Homo sapiens: one gene and its partners. The protein of the gene in region 4 interacts with the protein of the main gene of each other region in a biochemical or structural test. Each region holds a gene or a part of one and is shown on either strand. Other genes may lie near its edges. The genes, in order: TPD52L2, PPP5C, TNFAIP8L1 and MAP3K5.

Region 1 (5,886 bases), on a different chromosome or scaffold from region 4:
TCTACTAAAAATACAAAAATTAGCCAGGTATGGTGGTGCACGCCTGTAACCCCAGCTACTCGGGAGGCTGAGGCAGGAAAACTGTTTGAACCCAGGAGACAGAGGTTGCAGTGAGCCGAGATCATGCCACTGCACTCCAGCCTAGGTGACAGACCGAGACTGTTTCAAAAACAAACAAACAAACAAAAAACAGTGAGGATCCTTTTCCCTCAGGGCTCTCAGTCTGGGCTTGGACAATAGAAGCTGGAACTGTTGGCAGCCGGGCACCGTCTGCACTCATAGAATTCCATATGCAGAGAGGAGGAGGCAGATGGACAGTGACACAGGTGACAGAAAAAAACACCCTTAAGAAAACACTTGTGTTCCTGAGGTCAGTTCCAAACCTTGGCAAGAGTCAGTTACACGAACCAAAAGGTAAATTATCTTTTGTGCTTAACGTAGTTAGAACTGAGCAACAGAAAGATTCCTGATCATGAAGACTTGAACTTTCTCAGGTCTTTAAAAAAAAAAAAAAAAAAAAAGAACATGACCTCTGAAAGGGGCATCATTCAAAGCTTTACCACTTTAGAATGAGTTCTCAGTATCTTCAGCTCATATATGACTAGCTTCTCTTTAAAAATTCTCTTTCTTGGCCGGGTACGATAGCTCATGCCTGTAATCCCAGCACTTTGGGAGGCCGAGGCGGGCAGATCACCTGAGGTCAGGAGTCCGAGACCAGCCTGACCAATATGATGAAAGGCCGTCTCTACCAAAAATACAAAAATTAGCCAGGCGTGGTGGCATGCACCTGTAACCCCAGGTACTCGGGAGGCTGAGACAGGAGAATCACTTGAACCTGGGAGGCAGAGGCTGCAGTGAGCCAAGATCGCACCATTCCACTCCAGCCTGGGCAACAAGAGCAAAAAGTCTCAAAAAAAAAAAAAAACTCTTTCTTGCGTGTAATCCCAGCACTATGGGAGGCTGAGGCAGGCAGATTACCTGAGGTCTGGAGTTCGAGACCAACCTGGCCAACGTGGTGAAACTCCGTCTCTACTAAAAATACAAAAATTAGCCAGGCATGGTGCTGTGCGCCTGTAATCCCAGCTACTCGGGAGGCTGAGGCAAGAGAATCACTTCAACTCAGGAGGTGGAGGCTGCAGTGAGCCCAGATCACGCCACTGCACTCCAGCCTGGGCGACAGAGTGAGACTCCGTCCTTAAAAAAAAAAAAATTCTCTTTCTTGGCTGGGTACAGCGGCTCGCATTTGTAATCCTAGCACTTCGGGAGGCTGAGCCAGGTGGAGCTCTTGAGACTCGGAGTTCGGGACCAGCCTGGCCAACATGGTGAAACTCTGTCTCTACTAAAAATACAAAAATTAGCCAGGTGTGGTGGCAGGCGTCTGTAATCCCACCTACTTGGGAGGCTGAGGCATGAAAATCACTTGAACCAGGGAGGCAGAGGCTCCAGTGAGCTGAGATCACGCCACTGCACTCTAGCCTGGGCGACAGAGCAAGACTCTGTCTCAAGAAAAACAACAAAAAAAAGCAATACAGAACTTCACCTTGTAGGGGCCGGGCACAGTGGCTCACACCTGTAATCCCAGCACTCTGGGAGGCCAAGGTGGGTGGATCACAAGATCAGGAGTTTGAGATCAGCCTGGCCAACATGGTGAAACTCTGTCTCTACTAAAAATACGAAAATTAGATGGGCAGGGAGGCACGCGCCTGTAATCCCAGATATTCGGGAGGCTGAGGCAGGAGAATCGCTTGAACCTGGGAGGCGGAGATTGCAGCGAGCCGAGATCACACCATTGCACTCCAGCCTGGGCGACAGGGCGAGACTCTGTCTCCAAAAAAAAAAAACAAACCCCATCTCGACTAAAAACACAAAAAAATTAGCCGGGCGTGGTGGTGGGCGCCTGTAGTCCCAGCTACTCAGGAGGCTGAGGCAGGAGAATGGCGTGAACCCGGGTGTTGGAGGTTGCAGTGAGCCGAGATTGCGCCACTGCACTCCAGCCTGGGCGGCAGAGACTCCGACTCAAAAAAAAAAAAAAAAAAAAAAAAACTTCACCTTATTGTAATTCAACTCTGAAAAAAACCTTGTGGATTTAGTTTCTAAACTCACATATTCTGAAGTTAAATGGAAAGCAAAGTGTCCTTGGACTTCCTGCTACTCTCCTTTAATCTTCTAGGCTAGAAATAGCTGTGTGATGTCCTCAGGATCTGAAACCTGGTCCTCAGACTCAGCGGCACAACCAACCTTACTCAGACCTAGGCCTGGACCCAGATTCTGGAATTAAACCACATCACAGGGTGAAAAGAAAACTCTTGGCAGTTGGTTTGACTAAAAATTATGGTTGGAGGCTTTTGTTCTTAATTCCTACATTACTCTTAAGGGACTCTCACTTAAAGAAGATCACATAAATACTTTTTAGAAAAGAAGTTTTTGTTTTGTTTTTGAGACAGGGTCTCGCCCTGTCACCCAGGCTGCTGTGCAGGATGCAATCACAGCTCACTGAAGCCTTGACCTCCTGGCCTCAAGCAATCCTCTCACCTCAGCCTCCTGAGTAGCTGGGACTACAGGCACATGCCACCACACCTGGCTAATTTTTGGGGGTAGAGACAAGGTCTCACTGTGTTGCCCAGGCTGCTCTCAAACTCCTGGGCTCAAGTGATCTTCCCACCTTACCACCCTGTCCTCCTAAGGCGCTGGAATTACAGGCATGAGCCACTGCATCCAGCCAAAATAAATATGTTTAAAAGAAAACTTAAGATCCAGGACAAGAAAGATTCATGGGGTCTTAAAAATGATTATCAAGTGTTAATTCCAACAGAGACACTCCCAGCAGATGGCTGCTCAGAGGCGGTTCATGTGTGAACACTCCTCAGGGAGCACTTAGGAAGGGCCAGGCACAGAGGTATGGGAAGGGAGTCATGCCCTGTCTCCACTGCCAGGTGGCTCTGAGTCCAGTGCATGGAGCTGGGCACATACAAAGAGAACCCCGTTATCAGTCGGAACACAGAGCAGGGTAGGTGACCACCCAGGGCAATTCCTCCCGAGCGTGGCCAGTACCCTGGCCTCTCACTAATCCAAGAGGGCCTTAACTCCAATTCACCCCAGGACAGACAGCCAAGCCACAGCACCTTGGTAAGCTCAGCCCTGAGCTCCTCCTCCTCAGCCTCTGTCAGACCCTCAACAGCAGGAGTCCGGGCAGCCACACCTGTGTCGACAGGAACATCCGTCATGGAGTCAGACAGCAGACCTTTGTTAGGAGAATTCAGGTTGATATCTGCCAGAGACAAAATGAGGCCACAAAGTGTCAAATAAGTTAGTTCCAAGTAAATACGGTAGAGGTCTCTAGCAGGACAAAAGCACAGGTGGGAGTGGGTGAGACCCTGGAGACTAACACCTCTTCTCTGAAAGGTCTGTGAGGACAGCATGGGCAGTAGACGAGGGCAGCCACACCTCAGACCACCTGAGCTGAAAAGCCAATGCCACTTGTGCTGCTTCAGGGCACGACAAATGCCGGCCCAAGGCAGGCAAACCCGAATTCTGGCTTCCCAGTGAGAATACTATCGTCAGAGGCAGGAAACCCTTGCTACAGAGAAAGCAGCTCAATCTAACAGACCTTCCACCTTTTTTTTTTGATGGAGTCTCACTCTGCCTCCCAAGCTGGAGTGCAATGGTGCGATCTCAGCTCACTGCAACCTCCGTCTCCCGGGTTCAAGTGATTCTCCTGTCTCAGCCTTCGAGTAGCTGGGATTACAGGCGCACGCCACCACGCTGGCTATTTTTGTATTTTCAGTAGAGACGGGGTTTCGTCATGTCGGCCAGGCTGGTCTCCAATTCCCGACCTCGGGTGATCCGCCCGCCTTGGCCTCCCAAAGTGTTGGGATTACAGGTGTGAGCCACCATACCCTGACAAATTTCCACTTTTTTTAAAAAAAGGAACCTAATATGGTTAATATACACAATAAGCATCACTTTCCTCTCAACACATCTGACAGAGCACATGCTAAAATTACGTACTAGGAGCACATGCTGCTCATTCAGCTCCTTCAGGGAGGCAGCAAAACAAAATTCCCTTTACTTACCTCCCGATTCTCATCCCACTGCCAGAAGGCCGCCAGCAGGCAGAGAGGTGCAGAGCGGTGTGCTGCCACCACACACCTCAACTACACCCAGATCACATTCAAATTCCTGCAGCCACTGTTTTTTCTTCATGTCAAATGCATCTTCCTGACTACCCTAAAAGTCTACAAGATTTCACATAAAGAAAAACAGTCTATTTCGATTCTCTCCAAATCCAAGCACATGACTATTGTAACACTTTCCCTGTTGACCAAAACATTCTGAAAAGAAACAGGCTTACTGCCAGGCGCAGTGGCTCATGCCTATAATCCCAGCACTTTTGGAGGCCGAGGCAGGTGGATCACATGAGGTCAGGAGTTCGAGACCAGCTTGACCAAAATGGTGAAACCCCGTCTCTACTAAAAATACAAAATTAGTTAGCGTGGTGGCACGCGCCTGTAGTTCCCAGCTACTTGGGAGGCTGAGGCAGGAGAATCACTTGAACCCGGGAGATTACAGGCGTTGAGCCACCACGCGCGGCCAAAAAAAAATTCTTTAAAAAAAAAAAGAAAAACTGGTCGGGCGGGGTGGCTCATGCCGGTAATCCCAGCACTTTGGGAGGCTGAGGCGGGCGGATCACCTGAGGTCAGGAGTTCAAGACCAGCCTGGCCAATATGGTGAAACCCCGTCTCTTTTTTTTGAGACTGTCTCAAAAAAAAAAAACAAAAGAAAAGAAAAAGAAAAAAAAACTATGCCTTTTAAAAGACAACACAAAGACACCAGATTAAATGCACTTAACAAAGATACTCTTCTTAAAAGCTGGCTGCATCTCACTCCCTTCAAATGTCCCATAGGACTGGAGCCGTGTGCACTTCCTTGGCGCTCCACAAACGCTTACTAAACGAAGCGTATCCACTTTTTTATCCACTGATTCTCTTTTTTTTTTTTTTAGACGAGTCTTACTCTGTCACCCAGGCTGGAGTGCAGTGGCACGATCTCCGCTCACTGCAACCTCCACCTCCTGGGTTCAATCGATTCTCCTGCCTCAGCCTCCCAAGTAGCTGGGACTACAGGAGCACACCACCATGCCCGGTTAATTTTTTTATTTTTAGTAGAGACGGGGTTTTGGCACGTTGGTTAGGCTGGTCTCAAACTCCTGACCTCAAGTGATCCACTGGCCTCGGCCTCCCAATGTGTTAGAATTACAGGCGTAAGCCACCGAGCCCAGCCTTTCTGTTCTATTTAAAAAAAGACAAATGAGGCTGGGCACAATGGCTCACACCTGTAATCCCAGCACTTTTGGAGGCCAAGGCGGGCAGATCACCTGAGGTCAGAAGTTCGAGACCAGCTTGACCAACATGGAGAAACCTCCATCTCTACTAAAAATACAAAATTAGCCGGGCATGGTGGCGCACGCCTGTAATGCCAGCTACACGGGAGGCTGAGGCAGGAGAATCGCTTGAACCCAGAAGGCAGAGGTTGCGGGAAGCCATGATCGCGCCATTGTACTGCAGCGTGGGCAACAAGAGCGAAAATCCGTCTCAAAAAAAAAAAAAAAAGTAGAAAGACCAATTAACCTGGCATGGTGCGCCTGTAGTCTTATAGTCCCAGCTACCTGGGAGGCTGACGCAGGAAGATCGCTTGAGCCCAGGAGTTGAAGATTGCAGTAAGCTATGATTGCACCACTGCACTCCAGCCTGGGAGACAGAGGGAGACGCTGTCCCCAAAAAAAAAATTAAAAAAAAAAAAAAAAAAGGCCAGGCGCGGTGGCTCACGCCTGTAATCCCAGCACTTTGGGAGGCCGAGGTAAGCAGATCACGAGGTCAGGGTATCAAG
Region 2 (5,580 bases), on a different chromosome or scaffold from region 4:
ACCTCCACCCCCAGCCGCAGCCTCAGGTCTGCACAGAGTGGGAGGAGCCCTTGCCAGGAAAAGACGTGACCTTGGAAAGGAGAGGCCTGGCCATGCTGGGGCACCAAGGTGTGGGTGGAGCTGCAGGCTGGCCATGCACCCCAGGCTCCAGGCTCGGACAGGCCTGGGCCAGCACCCACCTGCTGTGTGACCTAAGCTGGTAGCTCAGTCTCTCTGGGTCTTGGCTTGTCTTCGTCTGCCTCAGGATCACATTTGAATGGCACCTGGCACTGGCCACACTTGGGTTCCATCCTGGCTTTGCCACTTCCCAGCTGTGTGACCGAAGCAGGTTACTTCACTGCTTGGTGTCACAGTTTCCCCATTTGCAAAGAGGGATAATAATATGTGCAACCTTGTTACTCAGCAGTTACTGAGAGGACAGGTTAAGAACAGGGCCTGGCCCACACCTGATGCTATCTAAGTATTTCCCCGTGTTATGGTATCTGCTCGATGAACGGCCACTTGTAGGGCCACTAGGCCTATGCATTGTTGAGTGGGAGGGCCCGTGTCCCATCTCCCCCATGGCTCCAGGCCTCTCTGAGGAGAGCTGAAGGAGGTGGACTGACTAGTCCCCGCACCTCCCCGCCACTGGCTTTCCGGGAGACAGGAGGCAGGGTCCTCAGTGCCATACTACTGAGGCTCAGCGGCCAAGCTCTGGCTGGAGCCACGGTGAGGAAAGGATTAGAAACCCAGATCCCTTGAGCCCTGCCAAGTCCTCACTCCCTGGGAGGTGCTGACAGGAGGCTTGAGGCCAGGCAGGAGCAGCCCATCTGGCCCATCTTCTGCCACCACCCCCAACCCCACCGCACCGCACCCTTCCCCTCCACGCTTGCCATGTTTTCCTCAGCAGGACAGATATTTAATGGTGACTTTGTGGACCGAGGCTCCTTCTCTGTAGAAGTGATCCTCACCCTTTTCGGCTTCAAGCTCCTGTACCCAGATCACTTTCACCTCCTTCGAGGTGAGCTGGGAAGTGACAAGGTTTGGGTTCATTGTGGGGTCCTGAGTGGGGCACTCACTCTGCAAGGATAATAGTTGCAGCTGTATTTATTTTGTGGACTCGGAGATCATGCACAGGGCGACCTTTTAAGATTGAGTATGTAGTGCACTGCACAAAAGCATCACACCAAAGGACGCGTTTACATCATAGATAGTGTAGAAATGGATGTTTACTCTGACCATTTTTCAGCAGATGGCAAACAAGGGTGTGAGGATGGGCCCCTTATTCTAATTTGCACAAGGGCATGAAACAGGCTCCTGGGTGGCCCTAAATCTGGCACTAAAGCTGAGTGACTGAGTGAACAGACCAGGGCTCGAGGGTGGGAGTAAGGAGACTGTTGACGAGGCAGTTGTGCCCCCTCAGATTCAGGCTTGGTGTCAGATTTGGGTTCTCTTGATTGAAGTAGAGCCCGGAGCTGAGTGTGCTGGTTCACACCTGTAATCCCAGCACTTTGGAAGGCCCAGGTAGGAGGATCACTTCAGCCCAGGAGTTTGAGACCAGCCTGGGCAACACAGTGAGACTTTGTCTCCAGTAAACATTTTTTAAAAAGGCCAGGCGCAGTGGCTCATGCCTGTAATCCCAGCATTTTGGGAGGCCAAGGCAGGTGGATCATCTGAGGTCAAGAGTTCGAAACCAGCCTGTCCAATGTGGTGAAACCCCGTCTCTACTAAAAATACAAAAATTAGCCGGGCATGGTGGTACACGCCTGTAATCCCAGCTGCCTGGGAGGCTGAGGCAGGAGAATCGCTTGAACCCAGGAGGCACATGTTGCAATGAGCCGAGATTGCGCCACTGCACTCCAGCCTAGTCGATAGAGTGAGACTCAGTCTAAAAAAAAAAAAAAAAGCCAGGCATGGTGGCACCGTGCACCCGTAGTCCCAGCTTCTTGGGTGGCCAAAGTGGAAGGATTGCTTGAGCCCAGGAGTGTAAGGCTGCAGTGAGCCATGATCACACCGCTGCACTCCAGCGTGGGCAACAGAGCAAGACCCTGTCTCTTTGAAAAAAAAAAAAAAAGTAAGAAACTTGGAAGTAGAGCCCAGAGTATTTGCTGGAGGAACAGACACAGGTGTGAGACAAAGAGGGAACGAAAGGGGCCCTCTAGGGTTTTGGCCGGAGTATCTGGAGGGCTATGGCTGCCAGTGACGAAGACGGGAACATGTAGAGCAGGGTGTGGCCAGGAGCTGAGGAGCTCCCCTTTGGATGTGGCTGAGACTCAGGAGACATGGGATGTGGGTGGGGTTCCAAGGGGTGTTGAAAATGTAGGTTTCTTGGTGTCCAGATGAGATTAGACAAGAGGAGCTCACTGGGATGTGAGGGCCACACAGGGGAGGCCCTGCCCATGGCGGGGCCGGGGTGAGTTGGGAGGTGAGTGATAGGCTGGGGCGAAGCCTGCATGCCCGTGTCCCTGGGCTCACAGGGTTCACGCAGCAGTGTCCAGCACAGGGTCAAAGCTCAGGAAGCCCGACTGTGGGCCTCGTTGCAGGAGGCAACAAGTGCTCAGGCCGAGAAGTCAGACAAGCAGAGTCTGAGCAGATGCGAGACTGGGCAGCCTTCTCCTTGCCCCCAAGCTCTGGAAGGGAAGAAGGAGGCCGGGTGCTTGTGTCTGAGACAGAAGGATGGAGCTCAGGGTGGGGTGGGCTGGGGCACATGTTCTGTAGATGGGCCTACTTTTTGGTTTTGAGACGGTCTTGCTTTGCTCTGTTGCCCAGGCTGGAGTGCAGTAGCATGAGCATAGCTCACTGCAGCCTCTGCTTCGTGGGCTCAAGTGATCCTCTGGCCTCAGCCTCCCAAGTAGCTGGCACTATAGGCACGCACCACCATGCCCAGCTAATTTTTAAAATTGTTTTATAGAGAGGTCTCAGTATATTGCCCAGGCTGGTCTCAAATTGCTGGGCTCAAGCAGTTCTGCCTTGGCTTCCCAAAGTGCTGGAATTATAGGCGTGAGCCATGGTGCTTAGCCATGGACCTACTTTTTGTCAAGATTCCCCCCTTGGTACCTCCAGTCTGGAAGGCACCGCAGTGGCAAGTGCGAGGCCCATGGGGGCAAGGGACGCATGCACAGTTCTGGGCCTTGAGGGTGCCAGGCTGGAGGACACTGATGTACCTGGAGGCTGAGCTTTCTCTTCTGTCCCCGTGTTGGCCAGGCAACCACGAGACAGACAACATGAACCAGATCTACGGTTTCGAGGGTGAGGTGAAGGCCAAGTACACAGCCCAGATGTACGAGCTCTTTAGCGAGGTGTTCGAGTGGCTCCCGTTGGCCCAGTGCATCAACGGCAAAGTGCTGGTGAGGACGGCGCGAGCCCTGAGTGTGGGTTCCCCACCCAGCCACACCTGGGCAGATGTGCTGGTGAAGGAAGTTGGGGCCTGTGGGTGGGTGGCACCTTCCCTCACAGCGGCATCCCCCATCTCCCCAGATCATGCACGGAGGCCTGTTCAGTGAAGACGGTGTCACCCTGGATGACATCCGGAAAATTGAGCGGAATCGACAACCCCCAGATTCAGGTGAGCAGCGCGGGGCCAGGTGTCTCCAGCAGAAAGGGGCAGCCTGGGCTGAGCTCTCCCCTGCAACCCAGCCCTGCCTCGGAGGATGGGCTTTGTGCCCTTGGCAAGAAACAGCGGGTCTGAGCCTCAGTTTCCTCACCTGCGACTTGGGCCAGTGCACCTCCTTCATGGGGCTGTGATGGCAAGCACGGTCGTGACCATGGTGCGGGGTGAAGGCACGGTGACCGCCGAGCACACCTGTCCTTATTTATTTGTGAGTTCAGCTGTGGAACCCTGGAAGGAGGGGAGGTCTTGGGGCTCCTGTGCTAGTGACGGGCACACTTCAGAGAGTTCACCCACAGGTGCACACGCACGTGCACACTGTGAGTGCTGCAGAGGACATGGATTGGGTGGGCTGGTGCTGGGTGCTCAGGAAGGCCTCTCCAGGGAGGCGAGGTTTGAGCTGACACTGCGGGAAGCAGAGGCATCTGCCGTGCACAGAGCCTGGCGAGCATATTCCAGGCTTGAGGAGGGGTCCTAAGGCAGGGAGAAGTTGGCGAGTGGGCAGGGCTGTGCTTTGAGGGCTGACATTGGACATGGGGTTCACTGGGCCCAAATCCTATGGCGCTTTACAGGCCCCAGTGAGGAACTTTGTTCCTAGGGCAGTGCGGAGCCACCAAAGGCTTTGAGTGGGAGAGGGGCCTGATCTGAATAGTGACATTGAAAGCTCTATCTGGCTTCGGGGCCACAGGGGATTGAATGGGGTCTGGAGGGCAGATCAGCAGAGAGGGTGGGGGTGGCTCAGAATCACAGTCACCTGTCCTGAATGTCCATGTCCATGCTGGATGTCCCCTGCCCAACACCCACCCAGGCTGGGCTGTGGGGTCAGCACCTGGCCGGGCCAGGAGGTGGCCTGTGAGTGACCACCCCCGGGGAGGTGGACGAGTCCCTAATGTTTCCCTCGCTCCCCACCAGGGCCCATGTGTGACCTGCTCTGGTCAGATCCACAGCCACAGGTGAGTCTAGGGTGGGGTGCAGGGCCGGCGGGTGTGGGCTGTGGCAGCAGGTGGAGGCAGACAGTCACCCTGAACCCCTGTCTCTCCCTTCTGCCCACCCTCAGAACGGGCGCTCGATCAGCAAGCGGGGCGTGAGCTGTCAGTTTGGGCCTGACGTCACCAAGGCCTTCTTGGAAGAGAACAACCTGGACTATATCATCCGCAGCCACGAAGTCAAGGCCGAGGGCTACGAGGTGGCTCACGGAGGCCGCTGTGTCACCGTCTTCTCTGCCCCCAACTACTGGTATGTCTTTGCCTTTCCAGCCCAGGGCCTCTACCAAGCCACGGGTTTTTGTCTTGGTTTTTGTTTTGCCTTTTTATGATGGAACATTTCAAAGACAGGCAAGAGCAGATAAAAGAACATGACGAACACCCCCGTATGTGTCACCCACCCATGCAGCACCAGTGGGGCCAGCCTGTGAGTGCTGACCAGCTGCCCTGTGTTACAGCAAGCCCCTGGCACTTCACCTTTCTCCCACTGATTGCCCAGCACTTTTCAGAAGGAAAGGGATCTTTTTCTTAACCACAATATCGTGTTTACACTTTTGAGTGCTGGCTGGGCATGGTGGCTCACGCCTATAATCCCAGCACTTTGGGAGGCCGAGGTGGGCGGATCACCTGAGGTCAGGAGTTTGAGACCAGCCTGGCCAACATGGTGAAACCCCATCTCTACTAAAAATACAAAAATTAGCAGGGCGTGGTGGCACACACCCGTAATCCCAGCTACTCAGGAGGCTGAGTCAGGAGAATTGTTCGAACCCGGGAGGTAGAGGTTGCAGTGAGCTGAGATTGCACCACTGCACTCCAGCCTGGGGAAGAGTAAGACTCCATCTCAAAACACACGCACACGGGCAAGAGTAAGACTCCATCTCAAAACACACACACACACACACACACACACACACACACACACACACACACACACACACACACACACACACACACACACACACACACACACACACACACACACAGTGTTGATCCCTTGCCCCCACCCGAATC
Region 3 (5,886 bases), on a different chromosome or scaffold from region 4:
TTGCAGTGACAGTGAGCCGAGGTCTCCAGCCTGGGTGATAGAGCGAGACTCCGTCACAAAAAACAAAAAACAAAACAAAAAAACCCAGTCCGACGGCTCCTCAGACATCTAAACACACAGTTACCATAGGACCCAGCAATTCCACTTTGGGGGATCTACCCAAGAGAAACACAAGCATACACCACGCAAACACTTGTTTTGCACGTCACAGTTTACAGCGGCGTGACCCAGGGTAGCCTGCAAGTGGAAGCAACTCAAATGTCCGTATGTCCATTAATGGGTGAATGAATAAACAAAATGAGATCGGTCCAAACAATGGAATGTTCTCTAGCCATAAAAGGAACGAGGCTCACACACAAGCTCCAGCGTGGATGCACCTTGAGGACATCATTCCCAGTGACAGAAGCCAGACACACAAGGCCACAAAGTGTGTGATCCCACTTCTATGAAATGTTCAGGAAGGGCCGGGCACCGGCTCACGCCTGCAATCCCAGCACTTTGGGAGGCCGAGGCGGGCGGATCACAAGGTCAGGAGATCGAGACCATCCTGGCTAACACGGTGAAACCCCGTCTCTACTAAAAATACAAAAAATTAGCGGGGCGCGGTGGCGGGCACCTGTAATCCTGGCTACTCGGGAGGCTGAGGCAGGAGAATGGCGTGAACCCGGGAGGCGGAGCTTGCAGTGAGCCAAGATCACGTCACTGTACTCCAGCCTGGGTGACAGAGCGAGACTCCATCTCAAAAAAAAAAAAATGTTCAGGAGAGGCCTGTCCACAAGGGCAGAAAGCGGACTCGCGGGTGCTGGAAACTGGAAGAGGGGAAAATGGAAAGCGATTGCTAAATTGGGAACCAGGTTTTTTTGGGGTGAGTGGTAATGGAATGTTCTGGAATTAGAGATTCCAGAAATTTATGATGGTCACATAACTTTCTGGTTATAAATTGTACACTTTAAAACAATGATTGGCCAGGTGCGGTGGCTCATAACTGTAATCCCAGCAGTTTGGGAGGCAGAGGGAGGAGGATCAATTGAGGCCAGGAGTTCAAGACTAGCCTGGCCAACATAGTGAGACCCGGACTCAACTGAAAAAAAAAAAAAAAGTCGGCCGGGCGTGGTGGCGAGCACCTGTAATTCCAGCTACTCGGGAGACTGAGGCAGGAGAACCGCTTGAACCTGGGAGGCGGAGGTTGCAGGGAGTCGAGATTGTTCCACTGCACTCCAGCCTGGGTGCAAAAACTGTTCCCCTGCTGGAAGGAGGAGGTGCCGGTAACCAATAAATAGAAACAAACAAGTTAATTTCAGGAAGAGAGATATGGGCCACGGGGGTGGGGGATGAAGTTCAGGGTAACCAGGAGGGCCTCTCTAGGGAGAGGCTGGGCCAGTTGAACTGGGCCTGCAATGACAGGGTCTGCGGGAAGATGCTCCAGGCAAAGGGCACAGCCTGTGCAAAGGCCCTGGGGCAGGGCTGTGTCACGCTTGTTACAGGAACAGCCAGGAGGCCTCAGCCCTGTCCACAGCCTCTGTCCAGGTCCGTCCACAGCTCTGAGGTCTCCCTGCTGTGACCCTTGGCAGGCCCCATGCATGGGGGCAGCTTTCCCATCTGCAAAATGGGTGACCAGGCACCAACTCCCTGGCTCCCTTGACTCTTCCCCTGCTCCCTATATTCCTTTTTTTTTTTTTTTTTGAGACGGATCCTCCTGCCTCAGCCTCCCAAAGTGCTGGGACTACAGGTGTGAGCTACCACCCCTGGCTTAAATGTACTTTATTTAACTATAAGTTTATGTATGTATGTATGTTTGTATGTATTTTGAGATGGAGTCTTGCTCTGTCTCCCAGGCTGGAGTGCAGTGGCCAAATCTCAGCTCACTGCAACCTCTGCCTCCCGGATTCAAGCGATTCTCCTGCCTCAGCCTCAGCCTCCCAAGTAGCTAGGACTACAGGTGCATGCCACCACACCCAGCTGGTGTATTTGTATTTGTACAAAAATACAAATTTGTGTATTTTTAGTAGAGACGGGGTTTGGCCATGTCGGCCAGGCTGGTCTCTAACTCCCGGCCTCAAGTGATCTACTCGCCTCGGCCTCCCAAACTGCTGGGATTACAGGTGGGAGCCACCACGCCCAGCCTTAACTATAAGTTTATATTCTCCCACGTTAAATAATGGCTGCGTTTAACTACCAGATGGCAAAATTCCTGAAAACACAGGAGGTGGCTCTGGTGAGCTGGCTGCAATTATGTCACAAGTCCCTGCCGTCCCCACCCCTGTCCCATGAATTCTTCATGCACCTCACAGAGTGTCAATAATTGATGGATCTGCTCTGCAGGTGCACGCCAGCCGCTCCATCTGTCTTGTCTCAGCCCCGGCTGCACTCAGTCCGGGGGCCCAGGGGGGGCCTCAGGCCTCTTCCCGCCGAGGCCAGTGATCCCAGGCCTCATCCCACCGACTCCCAGGGTCCCACTGCACCAAGCCCTTTAAGACCCATGACTCACAGGCTGGGCGTGGTGGCTCATGCCTGTAATCCCAGCACTTTGGGAGGTCGAGGCGGGCAGATCACCTTAGGTCGGGAGTCCAAGACCAGCCTGGCCAACATGGTGAAACCCCATCTCTACTAAAAATACAAAAATTAGCCGTGTGTGGCACACGCCTGTAATCCCAGCTACTCGGGAGGCTGCGTCACGAGACTCGCATGAACCTGGGGGGCAGAGGTTGCAGTGAGCTCCACTTCATTCCAGCCTGAGAAACAGAGTGAGACTCTATCTCAAAAAAAAAAAAAAAAAAAAAAAAATCCATGACTCAGGACTTGCAAGCCGGTGTCCATTTTATTTTTATTTATTCATTTTTTTTTTAAGACAAGGTCTTACTCTGTTGCCCAGGCTGGAGTGCAGTGGTACCATTATAGCTCACTATAGCCTCGACCTCCTGGGCTCAAGTGATCCTCCCACCTCAGCCTCCTGAGTAGCTGGGACTACAGGTATGTGCCACCATGCCTGGTTAATTTTTTTTTTTTTTTTTTGGTAGACATGGCGTCTTGCTATGTTGCCCAGGCTAGTCTCGAACTCCTGGGCTCAAGTGATCCTCCCGCCTTGACCTCCCAAAGTGCTGGGATTGCAGGCGTGAGCTGCCACACTTGGCCAGTGTCCATTTTATTTTATTTTTATTTTATTTTTTTGAGACGGAGTTTCACTCTTGTTGCCCAGGCTGGAGTGCAATGGCATGATCTCAGCTCACTGCAACCTCTGCCTCCTGGGTTCAAGTGATTCTCCTGCCTCAGCCTCCCAAGTAGCTGGGATTACAGGCATGCGCCACCACGCCCGGTTAATTTTGTATTTTTAGTAGAGACGGGGTTTTCTCCATGTTGGTCAGGCTGGTCTCGAATTCCTGACCTCAGGTGATCCACCCGCCTCGGCCACCCAAAGTGCTGGGATTACAGGCATAAGCCACCGTGAACGGCCAATTTTATTATTTATTTATTTTTTGAGATGGAGTCTCGCTCTGTTGCGCGATCTCAGCCCACTGCAACCTCCACCTCTCCAGTTCAAGCAATTCTCCTGCCTCAGCCTCCCAAATAGCTGGGATTACAGGCACCTGCCACCATGCCTGGCTAAGTTTTGTATTTTTAGTAGAGATGGGGTTTTGCCATGTTGGCCAGGCTGGTCTCCTCCTGGGCTCAAGCGATCCTCCTGCTTCGGCCTCCCAGAATGCTAGGATTACAGGCATGAGCCGCCATACTTCGCCAGTGTCCATTTTAGTTATGGCAAAAGAGAGAGGGGAATCTGTTGGCCCAAGTTGGGGGTGACATCAGTTGTTCTCAAACTGGGTTCCCCAGCACCCTCAGGACCACCCCATGGATGGGCAGGGGCCAGCTGCCTGCTGGGTTGTGGCGGGGAGCCTGGACACTTTCCACTGTGGCCAGATTTCCACTGGAGAAAGGGTTCGAGGGCCAAACATGAATTATCAGCTACCCACAGCCCATGACTCTGCAGAGGAGGGGACAGGCTTGCCTCAGCCCAAGCAATAAATTATTAGAGTGCAGAGAAGCCTAGGATCACCTGGCAGGAGGTGCATCCAGCCCCTAAATGTGTCCCAATGCAACCCACTTTTTTTTTTTTTTTGAGACAGAGTCTCACTCTGTTGCCCAGGCTGGAGTGCAGCGGCGTGATCTCGGCTCACTGCAACCTCCGCCTCCTGGGTTCAGGTGATTCTCCTGCCTCAGCTTCCTGAGTAGCTGGTATTACAGACACGTGCCACCATGCCTGGGTAATTTTTGTATTTTTAGTAGAGATGGGGTTTCACCATGTTGGTCAGGCTGGTCTCCAACTCCTGACCTCAGGTGATCCACTTGCCTCAGCCTCCCAAAGTGCTGGGATTACATGAGCCACCCTGCCTGGCCTAACGCAACCCACTTCTTATCTCCCCCACAGCCTCCATCCTGGTCCCCTCGTCCCTCAGCACCATCTATCCCCATGCCCCCCGTCTGTCCTCCCTGTAGCAGCCAATGGGTGCCTGTGAGTACCTGAGTCAGGTTCCATCCTTCCCCTGCCCACCACCCTCCATGGCTCCCACCTCCCTTGGGGTCAAAGCCAAGTATTCCTGGCAGCCCATAAGATCCTGCGCACCCTGCCCTGTCCCCTCCCTGCCCTCCCCTCCTCCCTCTCTCCTCCTCCTCACTGCTCCAGCCCCACGGGCCTCCTTGCTGCTCCTCTACCATGCCAGGCGCCATCTTGCCCCAGGGCCTTTACACAACCTGTGCCCTCTGCCTGAGCTGCTCTTCTCCCAGGTCTCCACATGGCTGTTTCCTTCTTGTCATCCAGGTCTGGGTTTACATGGCCCCTCCTCAGGAAGCCCTCCCAGATCCCCCATCTATTTTATTTATTTTATGTGTATATTTTTAATTTTTTTTTTTTTTTTGAGATGGAGTCTCACACTCTGTCAACCCAGGCTGGAGAGCAGTGGTGCAATCTCGGCTCACTGCAACCTCTGCCTCTTGGGTTTAAGTGTTTCTCCTGCCTCAGCCTCCTGAGTAGCTGGATTACAGGCACCCACCACCACGCCCGCCTCATTTTTGTATTTTTAGTAGAGACAGGGTTTTGCCCTCTTGGCCAGGCTGGTCTCGAATTCCTGACCTCAGGTGATCCGGCCACCTCAGCCTCCCAAAGTGCTGGGATTACAGGCGTGAGCCACGGCGCCCAGCCAATTCTCTTCTTTTTCTTTGAGACAGGGTTTCACTCCTGTCGCCCAGGCTGAAGTGCAGTGGCATGAGCTCGGCTCACTGCAGCCTCAACCTCCCTGGGCTCAGGTGATCCTCCCACCTCAGCCTCCAGAGTGGCTGGGACTACAGGCCTGCGACACCACACCTGGCTAATTTTTTTTTCTTTGTTTTAAGTAGAGACAGGGTTTCACCATGTTGCCCAGGCTGGGAAATTCTCTAGATGGACCTGCAAGTTTTTGGTTATAAGGAAACTGAGTCACAGAGGGTCAGGAGCTTGCCTGTTTATAAAGCAGTGATGTGGCAGAATCAGAATTTGAACCCAGCCTTTAACCTAGTGCAATCCTTTCCTCATCCTAGTCAATGGCACATTTGGGGTTCAAGTCTCGTCTCTCCCAGAGCCCACCCCAGAGGGGAAGGATCGAAGCCTTAGGAAGCTTCTAGAAGTACTGTGTCCTGTAATCCCCTCCTCGGGCTTTTAACAATATCTTGTTGAATCTCCCCCACCCCTCAAAGCACCCTCCCTCCCCACAGTTATCTCAGCCCCACAAGAAAAAGGAGATGACCAGCCCCATTGGACAGATGGGGAAACTGAGGCCTAGAAGCTGGGGATTTACAAGATCCCAAGAACTCTGCCAGAGGTCCCTGCGTCAAAGCTCGAGCGGGTGTGATTCCAGGGAG
Region 4 (5,886 bases):
TCTTTTTAAAATTATATTTCTTAAATTATCTTTTCATCTATTTATCCCAATTTACTATACTATGTTAAATGAATTTCATCAAATTATTTACTAAAGTTATAAACTCTAAGATTGGCCCGGTGGCTCACGCCTGTAATCCCAGCACTTGAGGAGGCAGAGGCAGTTGGATCACCTGAGGTCAGGAATTCAAGACCAGCCTGGCCAACAGGGCAAAACCCGTCTCTCCTAAAAATGTAAAAATTAGTGGGCGTGGTGGCGGGCACCTGTAATCCCAGTTACTGGAGAGGCTGAGGCAGGAGAATCGCTTGAACCTGGGAGGCAGAGGTTGCAGTGAGCTAAGATCACATGACTGCACTCCAGCCTGGGCAACAGAACAAGACTCCATCTCAAAAATAAAATAAAATAAAATAAAATCTAAGGTTTAGTTCATAATACACAATCTTATGGATTATAATAATACTTTAACACTCTCATTTGCAAATACTTTTTTATGCCATGGATTTACTAAGTAAGTAGCTCATTTATATACTATTTACTTACCAAGAAGCTCCATGGTCTCTGCTTTCAGTGTCCGTGAAATTAGAGTCCAAAAACATATCTTTGTAGATTCGACCAACTAGGCAATACATATCTGAAGCAACTTGTCCTTCGCTTTGCACCATGGGAATCATAATATCAAGAGCTTTTGCTCTGTCACCAGGGAGATTTCTCCTAAGGCAGAAAACATTGTTGTTTCAATATACATTACAGAAGCAATATAGATCAATTCTTTTTTAAAAACCCTATTTAACATGTTGATTCATATTAGAGAAATTTGCCAGGACAGAAACAATTAGATTTTGAGAGTCCTCTGTAAACCTCTGTCCTAAGCCTAATTTTTTGTTTTATCCCATTGTATGTCTACTAGGTCTAACAAGGATTTCTTTTGAGTTTCTGTGTTAATAATGGTGATGGATTTGTACTTACTCATCCACAATCCTTCCAATTTCCCTGCAGCCTATATGCAGGTTCAAGTTGGTGAAACGAGATTAGAGTTGTAGTCTGTGTCTTTGAATAGGGTAGAGTAAATAAAGCCAAGTAGGGACAAAACCCTGACCTTAGGTTTCAATGGCTTTTGCTCCAAAACTTAGCAAACTCATTCACAGATGATACCAAAAATCAAATCAAACCCAAGAACTGCTTGATTTCTACGTGTGACTAACTGATTATCTAAGGAAGTTGCTTTATGTAGCATGCTTTAAAATAGTATGTGTAGACAGTTCACAAAACCAGATAAAAATTCTATAAGAGTTATCATTCCTTAGACCTTGAAAATATTATGCTAAGTGAAAGAGGTCAGTCACAAGGGACCACATACTGTATGATTCCATTTATATGAAATGTCCAGAATAGGCAAATCTGTAAAGACTGAAAGTAGATTCGTGGTTGCCTAGAGTTGGGGGATTTGGGAGGGAAATGGAAGGGGGGCTGCTAATGGGTACAGGGTTTCCTTGTGGAGTGATGAAAATGTTTTAAAATTTATTGTTTTGATGAAATATATTTAGTTTGTTTGTTTGGAGACAGAGTCTTGCTCTGTTGCCCAGGCTGGAGGGCAGTGGCATGATCTTGGCTCACTGCAACTTCTGCCTCCCAGGTTCAAGCGATTCTCCTGCCTCAGCCTCCCGAGTAGCCGGAACTACAGGTGCACACTGCCACACCTGGCTAATTTTTTTGTATTTTAGTAGAGACGGGGTTTCACCGTGTTGCCCAGGCTGCTCTCGAACTCCTGAGCTCAGGCAATCCGACCACCTTGGCCTCTCAAAGTGCTAGGATTGCAGGAGTGAGCCACCACGCCCAGCCTGTGAAATATGTTTCAATAAAGCTATTATAAAAAAGGTATCATTTCTATTCTCAATTACTACTTCAAATCTTCTGTCCAAGAAATTCCTTTTTATCCTTGGTAATAACTATCTAACACTATGTTCACCTAGACATAACCATCCTTACTCTAGTGAAAACTTTTGTGTGAATGACCATCTGGTGTTGAGTGTATTTGCTTAAAGATAACATCATATTCATGTAACTTTTACAATTCTAAAAAATATGAATAGCAAATACAAACTTTGACAGAGCAGAAAACCTGTAAGAATTTAAATATACCAACAGTGTGCGACTTTTTTTTTACTGAAAAATAAATCAGAAAAAAATGAGAATGCATGCTTCCTATATTTCATGGGGCTGAAGCAGATATGCTAATATTACATTTTAATAGGGACTTCTTGCAATGCTGCAGTGAACACATTCTCTGTAAAGAATTGCAGGTTACACAATAATATGTTAACGCATTCTGGAAGGGAACTTTTTCTTCTTACCTATTCAGTGCAAATGCATAATGAAACTTCACATGGTGATGGGAGGCCAAATCAAAGGTTGGCAGTTTTTCTAAAGTCTCTACCAGCTTCACAATAGAATCATAGTCCTTTCAAATTAGATGAGAATAGCACAGAATTAAACCATTAGGAGAAAATTCTCACAATAACGTGTCTTTTGACAACCAGATATCTGAATTCAAGAAACACATTAAAAAGACACTAGAATCCACAGAACACTTTGAAGAACCTAGAATAAACAGTTTTTGTTGTTTTTCTTCTAAAAGGTTTAGATCGTATATATAAAAACATTAGAAACATACAGTTACCATGTTGAACAAAAACTAAAAAAGCAAAAGAAACAAAAACACCAAGCATGATAGTGCTCTACTGTCTAAATATGGGTGATTTATTTCCCCATAGAGCCAGATTCCCGGTATGCAGTGTTCTAACAATTTCAGGGAAATAAAAATGTCAAGGACATGAGGCAATGGGTTGAACTTCTGTTACAAGTAGCAACACAGTTTCATGTCACATGAGTAAGCACTCTAGCCACAGGATCCTATGTGCCACAGCCCTCCATGGATGTGAGTCTGTCTTGAGCACATGAAGCCTTTACACAGACCTGAAAGGCTAGGAATGGAAAGGAGAAACCAGATGTCATTTAAATTTTACTATTAAAACCTAAGAGCAAATCCCTAACTTGGAGAGGATTTTATTCCACTTACCCTATTTTTAAAATTTTAAGACATGTCAATAAAAATGATATAACCTGTTAGTGTGTTTTACATTACATATTTTTAAAGTTATTTCTGTAGGTAATCAATTACATATTTTTTCCTTCAGGCGAGTTAGATTCAGCACTATCAATTTCAAGCAATACAATTTCAAGGGATAAAAGGTATGTCCAGAAAGCTCTAAAAATGTCTGCTATTTGCCAAAACAAAGCTTTCACTGACAGGTGTGCCTGAGGCTAACAGTAGAATAGACTGTGTCCACAGGTTCGCTGTGCCAGCAGATTTTTCTTTTTGTTCTTTTGGAGGAAAAAGTCAGGCCTTTACCATACAAGTCTTTCACAATCACTGATGGTTAACTCACATGAGTCTTTTTCATTCATCATAAAATTATAGGATGGAAAGCTTAAGAGAGTCAATAAAAAATTACGTGTAGTAACATGAACTGCTTACCAGCAAACTGAAATTTGAGGTTAATACTCCCTTATCCCTCCAACATGCTACACAACAAAGATTTCACTTTAAACATCTTCTCACCTGGATATCTCTGTAGGAAAGTAACAGATTTATGACAATATCTGCTGTCAAGACTTCGATATTATCTACTCGCTGCCGAATTCTTGCCAACTCAGCTGCCAATTCTTTACCAGTGTATAAATTACGAGCTTTCCTGATGTCATTGAGTATAGATTCCCGGAAGTACTGGCTGGTAAAAACACACACATTTCAAAGAGTTTGACATTAGAAACAATTTCAATGAAAAGCAATAATTTTAATAAAGACATGAATGATATTGCAGCATTAGCTATAAAGCATTTGTAGTTTTCAGTTCATTCAGATGCCTAAATAAATATCTTACATATCTGGCATTATTAAGAAATTTAGAAGCCAATGTATTTCTTTTATTACTCTGCCTTCAGAAAGAATTAAAGGTAAAGGTACTCCATATTAATAAATTTTCCTGCAAAAAACCACTTAAAATGCCAAAACTTTGTTTTCCATTTTACTGTTTCCAGTACAAATTGTTCTAAATAAATTAGATGTACCTATGATTTTTTGTTTGTTTGTTGTTTTTGTTTTTGAGACAGAGTCTCACTCTGTTGCCCAGACTAGAGTATACTGGCATGATCTTGGCTCACTGCAACCTCCATCTCCTGGGTTCAAGCAATTCTCTTGCCTCAGCCTTGTGAGTAGCTGGGATTACAGGTGTGCACCACCACACCTGGCTAATTTTTGTATTTTTGGTAGAGACAGGGTTTCGGCATGTTGGCCAGGCTGGTCTCGAACTCCTGATCTCAAGTGATCTGCCCACCTCGGCCTCCCAAAATGCTGGGATTACAGGCATGAGCCACGGCACTGGCCGTGATGTACCTATGATTTGAACATAATATAACCTTAACTTCCTGACTCAGCCTATCATTTATTAACATAAATAATTGTTCTTCACTGAAAGAACAATTAGAGTTAAGAGTTAATTAAAGTTGAATTGTTCTTGCCCTTACACTAGAAGTCCCTGGACATTTATCCTGGTATTGTTTCTGTACTTGCTTTGTATATATTTTTAGTTCTACCATCACTATAAAGCGGTTAGTAGACTTTTTAATTTTTTGCTGATTTCAAGTTGCTGTTCTGTGAATAAAATGTATTATGTGGCATCTATTTTATCTACTTGGAGGATAATAAACATTTTCCCCCTAGTTCTTAGCTGTATACTGATATCTCAGGAGCACCTGATATCATGCACAAATAAAGATGTAGAATAACACTTTATTGTCATCACCAAATGGCATTATTAATTAAACTTTACCTAGAACTTGCTTGTGCCACCTTCAAAAGTTGAATAAAACGATCCACAAGAGGTAAGCAGATGGGTCCAAGAAGCAGCTCGAAGTTCGGTTGCATGAGCTCTGTCAACCCCTTCATGAAGCTGCTGTCACAGCAGTAGACTTTGTTATGTGGAGTTATCATGTAAGGAACAAAGGTGTAGTTCCCAGTGCACATCTGCGGAGAGAGGAGGCATCGGCAAGTGGGGAGCTGGCCTGGAGACACGGCACAGATGGAATCCCACGTCTTACTCATTTTAAATAATTCCAAATGCAAAGGGAAATAGAAAAGCCTCATTATTTATTTATGACCTACGACAATGAAAATTTCCCCAATTCCTTTCACTGCATACTTCAAATAATTAGGACTTACAGATGATACCAAAAAAAGAGTGGAACAGTTTCTATCCATCAATTTAATATTTATTCACCATCTTTCAAGGCTAGGGCACTAAGTTATTGCTGTTGGAAAAAGTAGTTTAAAGCATGGCCTTCAGCTTTCAGGGAACTTATAATTTAGTCACAGGGCGCAGCATACACATATGAAAATGCTACAAGCTCACATTTGAAGGGCTTCCTACATGTAAGGTGATGCCGCAAGTAGATCCCGCTCAAATCCACCCCCCGGGAGGCTGCTCTCTCTCTGTCTCCCCACTACTAAAACTACAGGCCCAGAAGTTACCCTTGATGCTTCCATTCCCTTCCCCTTCCACATCCTATCGAAGTCCCATCTGTCCTGCCTCCAAAATATAATGTCATATTTGTCCATTTCCCTCCATCTTCTCGGCCAACACTTTAGTCCATGCACCAATGGACCTGGCCTGAGCCACTGCCATCAGCTTTAACTGGTCCCCCTGCTTCCACTCTTGTCCTCTAATTTACTCTCCACTCTGCCATCAGAGTGATCTTTCAACACTGTCCCTCAGATCACTTCCCACAGCTGCTTAAAGCCCCATCTCTTGCTCTTGGGAGAAAGAAGAA

What was found.
Region 1: the proteins of MAP3K5 (region 4) and TPD52L2 form a complex in vitro, tested with the Homo sapiens proteins (one study listed by BioGRID).
Region 2: of the proteins of MAP3K5 (region 4) and PPP5C, one has a biochemical effect on the other in vitro, tested with the Homo sapiens proteins (one study listed by BioGRID).
Region 3: the proteins of MAP3K5 (region 4) and TNFAIP8L1 form a complex in vitro, tested with the Homo sapiens proteins (one study listed by BioGRID).

What each region holds. Positions count from the first base shown.
Region 1 is NC_000020.11:63,866,678-63,872,563, reverse strand, and holds part of TPD52L2 (tumor protein D54), read right to left. Parts: intron 3,269-5,886; coding exon 3,123-3,268; intron 1-3,122.
Region 2 is NC_000019.10:46,383,910-46,389,489, forward strand, and holds part of PPP5C (serine/threonine-protein phosphatase 5), read left to right. Parts: intron 1-894; coding exon 895-1,000; intron 1,001-3,183; coding exon 3,184-3,326; intron 3,327-3,456; coding exon 3,457-3,544; intron 3,545-4,498; coding exon 4,499-4,539; intron 4,540-4,643; coding exon 4,644-4,822; intron 4,823-5,580. UniProt on the Homo sapiens protein: Serine/threonine-protein phosphatase that dephosphorylates a myriad of proteins involved in different signaling pathways including the kinases CSNK1E, ASK1/MAP3K5, PRKDC and RAF1, the nuclear receptors NR3C1, PPARG, ESR1 and ESR2, SMAD proteins and TAU/MAPT.
Region 3 is NC_000019.10:4,641,504-4,647,389, reverse strand, and holds part of TNFAIP8L1 (tumor necrosis factor alpha-induced protein 8-like protein 1), read right to left. Parts: intron 1-5,886. UniProt on the Homo sapiens protein: Acts as a negative regulator of mTOR activity.
Region 4 is NC_000006.12:136,693,600-136,699,485, forward strand, and holds part of MAP3K5 (mitogen-activated protein kinase kinase kinase 5), read right to left. Parts: intron 5,084-5,886; coding exon 4,890-5,083; intron 3,789-4,889; coding exon 3,620-3,788; intron 2,459-3,619; coding exon 2,352-2,458; intron 712-2,351; coding exon 541-711; intron 1-540. UniProt on the Homo sapiens protein: Serine/threonine kinase which acts as an essential component of the MAP kinase signal transduction pathway. Plays an important role in the cascades of cellular responses evoked by changes in the environment.